Linked DNA regions of Homo sapiens. The protein of the gene in region 2 purifies or fractionates together with the protein of the main gene of each other region. This does not show direct contact. Each region holds a gene or a part of one and is shown on either strand. Other genes may lie near its edges.

The links. Proteins that work in one complex are often made in the same cells at the same time.
Region 1: the proteins of ZNF586 (region 2) and GTF2IRD1 purify together in Homo sapiens (affinity purification with mass spectrometry; one large-scale study listed by BioGRID and IntAct). This does not show direct contact.

What each region holds. Positions count from the first base shown.
Region 1 is NC_000007.14:74,596,906-74,600,005, reverse strand, and holds part of GTF2IRD1 (general transcription factor II-I repeat domain-containing protein 1), read right to left. Parts: intron 1-3,100. UniProt on the Homo sapiens protein: May be a transcription regulator involved in cell-cycle progression and skeletal muscle differentiation. May repress GTF2I transcriptional functions, by preventing its nuclear residency, or by inhibiting its transcriptional activation.
Region 2 is NC_000019.10:57,768,226-57,772,475, forward strand, and holds the start of ZNF586 (zinc finger protein 586), read left to right. Parts: upstream 1-1,450; 5' UTR 1,451-1,617; coding exon 1,618-1,653; intron 1,654-4,250. UniProt on the Homo sapiens protein: May be involved in transcriptional regulation.

The DNA.
Region 1 (3,100 bases), on a different chromosome or scaffold from region 2:
GAAGGGGCAGGGCTGTTAAAGGACTTTCTCCAAGGCCAAGTCTGCGTGGCTCCGGAGGCCACATTCTTTCCTGGGCTCTTTAAGGCTGTGAGGGGATGTGGGACCCCAGGAGAGGCTCTGGGAGTTCTGGGGAGGCTGGAACTGCAGGCTAGGTTGTCCAGGGAGGGTATAAAGAGGACCTGGGGCCAGGCGCAGTGGCTCACACTGGTAATCCCAGCACTTTGGGAGACCAAGGTGGGTGGATTGACTGAGGTCAGGAGTTCGAGACCAGCCTGGGCAACATGGTGAAGGTTGAAACCCTGTCTCTACCAAAATACAAAAAAATTGTATTGCTATGGTTATCACTAATGTATGGTGGTCCTGAGTGGAGAGTTCACAGGTCCAAGTAGACAGGCAGTGCCCCAGTGAAAGAAACTCTGGTTTAGAATCAGAAGTCCTAAGTTCAAATTTCACTGTGGCCACTTACTATTATCACTGTGTGAATCTGGGAAAACTGATGAACCTCTCTGAGTCAAATGGGGAAACCAGTGTGATGTGAGACTCAAAAAACACCGCATGCATAAAAGAACCCAGCACCTAGTTCAGCACGGAGGAGGGGTCAGCAGGTGTTCTGTGGTTGCTGGATTAACTTGAGGTGAAGATGTAAGACTTTGAGCAGCACGTCCTGATTGGATGGATTACTGCATGGAAACCTCGCCCAGCCCAATAAAGAAGGGCTTTTATTGTCTTTTTGAGACAAGGTCTCACTCTGTCACCCATGCTGGAGTGCAGTGGTGTGGTCTTGGCTCACTGCAACCTCCACCTCCCAAGCTCAAGTGATCCTCCTGCCTCAGCCTCCCTACAGGTGCACACCACCCTGCCTGGCTAATTTTTTGTAGAGACGGGGTCTCTGTATGTTGCCCAGTCTGGTCTTGAACTCTTGGGCTCAAAGAATTCTCCTGCTTCAGCCTCCCAAAGTGCTGGGATTACAGGCGTGAGCCACTGCACTCAGCCCACCGGAAGGGTCTTAATGACACAGAGTAAGGGCAGGCTGGGTCCATGGGGCAAATGTCTCTTCAACTGGTGGAGAAGTCAGAAACTGGGGGTCTGTGGTGAGGCATAGAGACCCTGCGAAAGAGAAGACCCTGGAGGCAGGAGGAGCCCAGGCTATGAGTCAGAGGGATTTTTGTGGGAGATTCCACATGAAAAAGAAGTCAGAGGCTGCCCCACCCTCTGTCTCAGACTGGTCCATGGGCTGTGGCCATCCTTGAATCACCATGAGAGATGGCCACATTGGAGGGAGTGGTGGATGTGGGTGACAGTATCCACCCTCTGGGCATCTGTCCCAAATCCTCCTGAGGCTTTCATGTGGCCTTCTGTGTCTCTGCCATGTTTTGTTTTGTTTTTTTTTGAGACAGAGCCTGGCTGTGTTCCCCAGGCTGAAGTACAGTAGTGTGATCTCAGCTCACTGCAACCGCCGCTTCCTGGGTTCAAGCAATTCTCCTGCCTCAGCCTCCTGAGCGGCTGGGATTACAGGCGCCCACCACCACCCCCGGCTAATTTTTTTTTTTTTGGATTTTAGTAGAGACAAGGTTTCACCATGTTGGCCAGGCTGGTCTTGAACTCCTGACCTCAGGTGATCCACCTGCCTCCCTGCCTCAGCCTCCCAAAGTGTTGGGATTACAGGCGTGAGCCACCGCGACTGGCCTCCTCTCTGCCTTTGACCTGAGAGTAAACCAAATCGCCTCCAGATCCGTGTGTTCAGTGCCAGACCTGACCCTTTTAACTGGCTCTTTTTTTTTTGGAAACAGGGTCTCACTCTGTCGCCCAGGCTGGAGCGCAGTGGCACAATCATAGCTCACTGCAGCCTCCACCTTCCGGCCTCAAGCACTCCTCCTGCCTCATCCTCTTGACTATCTGGGACAACAGGTACGCGCCACCACGCCTGGCTAATTTTTAATTTTTTTGCAGAGACGGAGGGAGGGTCTCACTTTATGGCCCAGGCTTGTGACTAGCTCTTGATGGAAGGAGGTGGCTTCTAGCTGGGCTGTGCCACCCCAGGCTGTGGAGTTCCAGGTGAACCTGGTCCTGACAGGAGTCAGGGCCTTGGGTCTCAGGTAAGGTTGTGGCGTGGACTTGCTGAATCCTATCACTGTCCCTGTTGAGCAGCCATACTGGGCCGTGTGGCCCACGGTGGTCTATGGTTCAGATGGGTGGTCCTGAGAGCAGGGTCTACACAGCATCTGACTCACTATGTGGCCTGGGCAAGTCCCTGGGCATCTCTGTGCCTCAGCTTCCCAGCTGTACAATGAGGTGGGGTAAGATTAGATCAGTATTTTTTCTTTCTTCTTCTTTTTTATTTCTTAGGAGACGGGGTCTCGGCCAGGCACAGTAGCTCACGCCTGTAATCCCAGCACTTTGGGATGCTGGGGTGGGAAGATCACTTGAGGTCAGGTGTTTGAGACCAGCCCGGCCAACATGGTGAAACCTCACTTCTACTAAAAATACAAAAAATTAGCTGGGTGTGGTGGTGCATGCCTGAAGTCCCAGCTACTCGGGAGGCTAAGGCATGAGAATTGCTTGAACTCAGGAGGCGGAGGTTGCAGTGAGCCAAGATCGCAAGATTGACTCCAGCCTGAGTGACAGAGTGAGACTCTGTCTTGAAAGAAAAAAAAAAAAAAAAAAGGCCGGTAGCAGTGGCTTACGCCTGTAATCCCAGCACTTTGGGGGGCCGAGGCAGGTAGATCATGAGGTCAGGAGTTCGAGACCAGCCTGGCCAATATGGAGAAACCCCGTCTCTACTAAAAATACAAAAAAATAGCTGGGCGTGGTGGCAGGCGCCTGTAATCCCAGCTACTTGGGAAACTGAGGCAGGAGAATCACTTGAACCCGGGAGTCGGAGGTTGCAGTGAGCCGAGATCACACCACTGCACTCCAGCCTGGGCGACAGAGTGAGACGCTGTCTCGGAAAAAAAAAAAAGAGATGGGGTCTCATTCTGTCATCCAGGCAGGATGGCATAATCATAGCTCACTGCAGCCTTAAACTCTTGGGCTCAAGTGATCCTCCAGCCTCAGCCTCCTGGGACTACAAGTGCCTACTACCATGCCTGGCTAATTTTTA
Region 2 (4,250 bases):
TAAGAATGCCTAACCTGGGAATGCAGCCGAGTATTTCTCAGCCTTACTTTATCCAGCCCATTTTCAAGATGGAGTCACTCTGATTCCAATGCCACTGACAATGATAAGCACTTGCCAGCAAAGAGGTGAACGCATGGATTTAAGGCACTTGAAATATCTCAGTGTAAAAGCACCCTGTGCATGTAGCAGGACGAGCCGCAGACAAAACCTCTCAGACACCGAGTTGCAGAAGGAAGGGCTTTATTCAGCTGGGAGCATTGGCCAGCTACTGTCTCAAAATCTGAGCTCCCGGAGTGCACAATTTCTGTCCCTTTTAAGGGCTCACAACACTAAAGATTTCACATGAAAGGGTCGTGATTGATTTGAGCAAGCAAGGGGTATGTGACAGGGGCTGCATGCACCGGTGGTCAGGGAGGAACAGAACAGGGCAGGGAGTTTCACAATGTTCTTCTATACAATCTAAGGAATCTATGAATAACATCGGCTTCTAAATCATAAGTTGATTTTTAACTACTGGGTTTAGGCCAGGCGGGCCTAGGCCTGGTTTCGGGCCTGGCGCGGGGTTGCCTGTCTTTGGTTTTACTTCCTTGTTGTTTTTACTGAATATAAAACAATGTGAGAGGGTCTCTCTCTTCTCTCATGCATACATACTCCATGTTTGAACACCGCAGCCATTGTCCTGTAACATAATAGCATTTGTCTCATTAGCTTTTTGATGTTGATATCAGATTTCTAGAGGAATCTGTAGGTTAAAGATATAAATAAAAGTGTTGCTAATGGGCTGAGAACGGTGGTTCACGCCTGTAATCCTAGCACTTCGGTAGACCATTGCAGGCAGATCACTTGAGGCCAGAAGTTCGAGACCAGCCTGGCCAAAATGAGGAAACCCCGTCTCTACTAAAAATACAAAAATTAGCAGGGTATGGTGGCACACGCCTGTAATCCCAGCTACTCGGATGGTTGAGGCACGAGAATCGCTTGAACCCGGGAGGCATAGGCTGCAGTGAGCCAAGATCACACCACTGCACCCCAGCCTGAGTGACAGAGAGAACTATGTCTTAAAAAAAAGACAAAAAAAAAAAAAAAAGGAAGAAGCCGAGCATCACAAATTCTGAAATAAGAAGTCTCCAAACACGCGGGCAATCAGTTGCACACAGTACCCCCAGAAATGTGCGTATGGCCTCTTCTAAGATGGGAGACCCTCCTCCGCATCTGGACCTGGAGTCGCCATTTCCTAGCGCCCCTCGCAGTGGAGCTTGCCCCTTTCTTCGGAAAGTCGGAAGAAAGCCACCTTAAGCGCTGCCCATGTCTGGGAACTACATTACCCAGAATCCGCCCTGCGAAATGGTAACGTGGCTGAGCCAATGAAGCTTCAGAGAAGCCGTGCCATTGCCGGGGCACGTAAAGTCAAGCCAGGACTTCCGGCGTCCTAGCCGTGGCAGCCATTTTGGCCTGTCAGGTCCATCCGGCGATGCTGGGTCTGGACGAGCTCGGGAGGAGTGGTTGTGGCCATTGCACACAGGCGGATCTGAGGTTCGGCGACGCCGCTGGTCGCGACCCGGGACAGGACAACGACAGGAACACCGCCGAGCCCGCGTTCCCCCCCCGCCCAGAGTCATGGCGGCAGCAGCCGCTCTGAGGGCGCCTGCTCAGGTGAGCGCTGCGACCTCCGGGCCTTACCCACCCTACCCACCCAGACCCTGAGGCCCCTGATCGTGAGGGCCGCCTCCTCGCGTCCCTGCAGCCCAGGCCTCTGTCAGGGACGGAGAGGCGCCGGCGGGTGGGATCCCTGTTTCCGACACCCAGTTGATGCGGTCGGCAGAGCGAGACTGGCGGAGGGCAAAGGCCTGCAGGCGCGACTGAGGCAGGAGGATGCGGAACACGGGGACATCGTGTGTCTACTGGGAAAGAAGTGTGATACGGAGTTATTTCTTTTTTTTTTTTTTTTTGAGACGGAGTCTCACTCTGTCGCCCAGGCTGGAGTGCAGTGGCGCGATCTCGGCTCACTGCAAGCTCCACCTCCCCGGTTCAAGCGATTCTCCTGCCTCAGCCTCCCGAGTAGCTGGGATTACAGGCATGCGCCACCACGGGGTTTCACCATGTTGGCTAGGCTGGCCTCGAACTCCTGACCTTAGGTGATCCGCCCACCTCGGCCTCCCAAAGTGCTGGGAATACAGGCGTGAGCCACCGCGCCTGGCCGAGGCGGAGTTGTTTCTTCAGTACCAGGCTGAGGGTTGAACTTTGACTGTGAGGACGCTAAAAGCCATGGACAGTTTTGAACAAAGGAGGAAATCTGTGTTAGAGTTGCGATTCCCAAAAGATGTTCGAAGGAAGAACAGAGTTGAAGGCAGTGATGAGGACATTGAGAGGTTGAATCATTGAGAGGTGACATTGAGCACTGGGCCACAAGATTAGAGACTCAGTCTGAAGTCATCTGGCTGCAGGGCCAAAAAAAGCTTACAGAGAAGCCTGAGTCTATCAAATCCGAGCACAGACACATTTGTGAAAGCCCTGCCTTTTGGCACACCTCATGGCTACAGAAGCACTTACAGAATCCACAGTAGGAAGTAGGGGATGCTCTAGTCCTTCACTGGTCCTCATCCTATCCCACATGTCTAGATCTTGGCATCTTTTTTTTTTTTCGGCGACGGGTTCTCACTCAACACCCAGGCTGGGTTGCGGTGACGCGATCACGGCGCAGCACGGCCTCGACCTCTCCGGGCTCAGGAGAGCCTCTCATCTCAGTCTCCCGAGTAACTGGCTTTTTGTATTTTTAGTAGAGGTGGGGTTTCACGGCCGGGCGCGGTGGCTCACGCCTGTAATCCTAGCACTTTGGGAGGCCGAGGCGGGCGGATCACGAGGTCAGGAGTTTGAGACCATCCTGGCTAACACGGTGAAATCCCCCCTCTACTAAAAATACAAAAAATTAGCCAGGCCTGGTGGCACACACCTGTAGTCCCAACTACTTGGGAGGCTGAGGCAGGAGAATCGCTTGAACCCGGGAGGCAGAGGTTGCAGTGAGCCGAGATCGCGCCACTGCACTCCAGCCTGGGCGACAGAGAAAGACTCCGTCTGAAAAAAAAAAAAAAAAGAGAGAGAGAGAGATGGGGTTTCGCCATGTTGCCCAGGCTAGTCTCGAACCCTTGGGCTCAAGCAGTCCTCTTGCTTCGGCTTCCCAAAGTGCTGGGATGCCAAGCAGGAACTACCGCACCTCCTAGGACACTTAAGTGCCATTTCTCCGGTCCTTCAATCTGGGGATCTTGGAAAAACCTCAAACCCCAAACCTACATCAGTGACATAGGTTATGGGGAGTTGTTGCTATGTCTGTCAACTAATGTAACACATGTGGAGGGTTCACCCAGGAACTGATACTGGGGTGTGCAAATACTTACTTAGAAGTGAAACTAGAGGGGTGAGGTGATGTTACCAATTTCTTAATAGGCGCTGTCTGGTTACTGAGTGGGCAACAGACTGTGGGGTTGAGGGAGGAGGAAGATCAAACTGGAAGCTACTGCCCTAGTCGAGGTGAGGATTAATGGACTAGAGTTGTGGCTTAGGCAATGTGGCTAGATCTGGATTTGTGTTTTTTAGAGGGGCAAGTCAATTTTTTTTTTCCCAAGATGGAGTCTGGACCTGTTGCCCAGGCTGGAGTGCAATAGTGGAATCTTGGCTCACTGCAACCTCCGCCTCCTGAGTTCAAGCGATTCTCCTGCCTCAGCCTCCGAAGTAGCTGGGATTACAGGCGCGCGCCTCCACACCCAGCTAATTTTTGTATTTTTAGTAGAGACTAGGTTTCGCCATATTATCCAGGCTGCCTCGAACTCCTGACCTCGTGATCCACCCGCCTTGGCCTCCCAAAGTGCTGGGATTACAGGCTTGAGCCACCGTGCCCAGCCTGGCAACTCAATTTTTAAATGTGAACAGTGAGAGCTTGAGAGGATTCAGGAAACACCCCTGGGTTTTTTATCTTAGCAGCTGTAGCAATGGGAGCTGCATCAACTGAGATGAGCAAGTTGATAGCAGGTGTAATATTCACTGAGGCTATCAGGAGGTTTGTTTTGGCCATTCTGCGTGGAAAAAAATACAAATTGCTTTTGCTCTGCTCTCCCCCACAACAATCAACACAGAGTACTTCTGTGACTAGATAATGTGTGGATGGTTTTCCTCATACACCAAGTAGTTCTGCAGTGGACATCAGATCCCACAGGGTGAAGTCTCAGTCCCACGGGACTGTCCGCCAACCCCTTTCG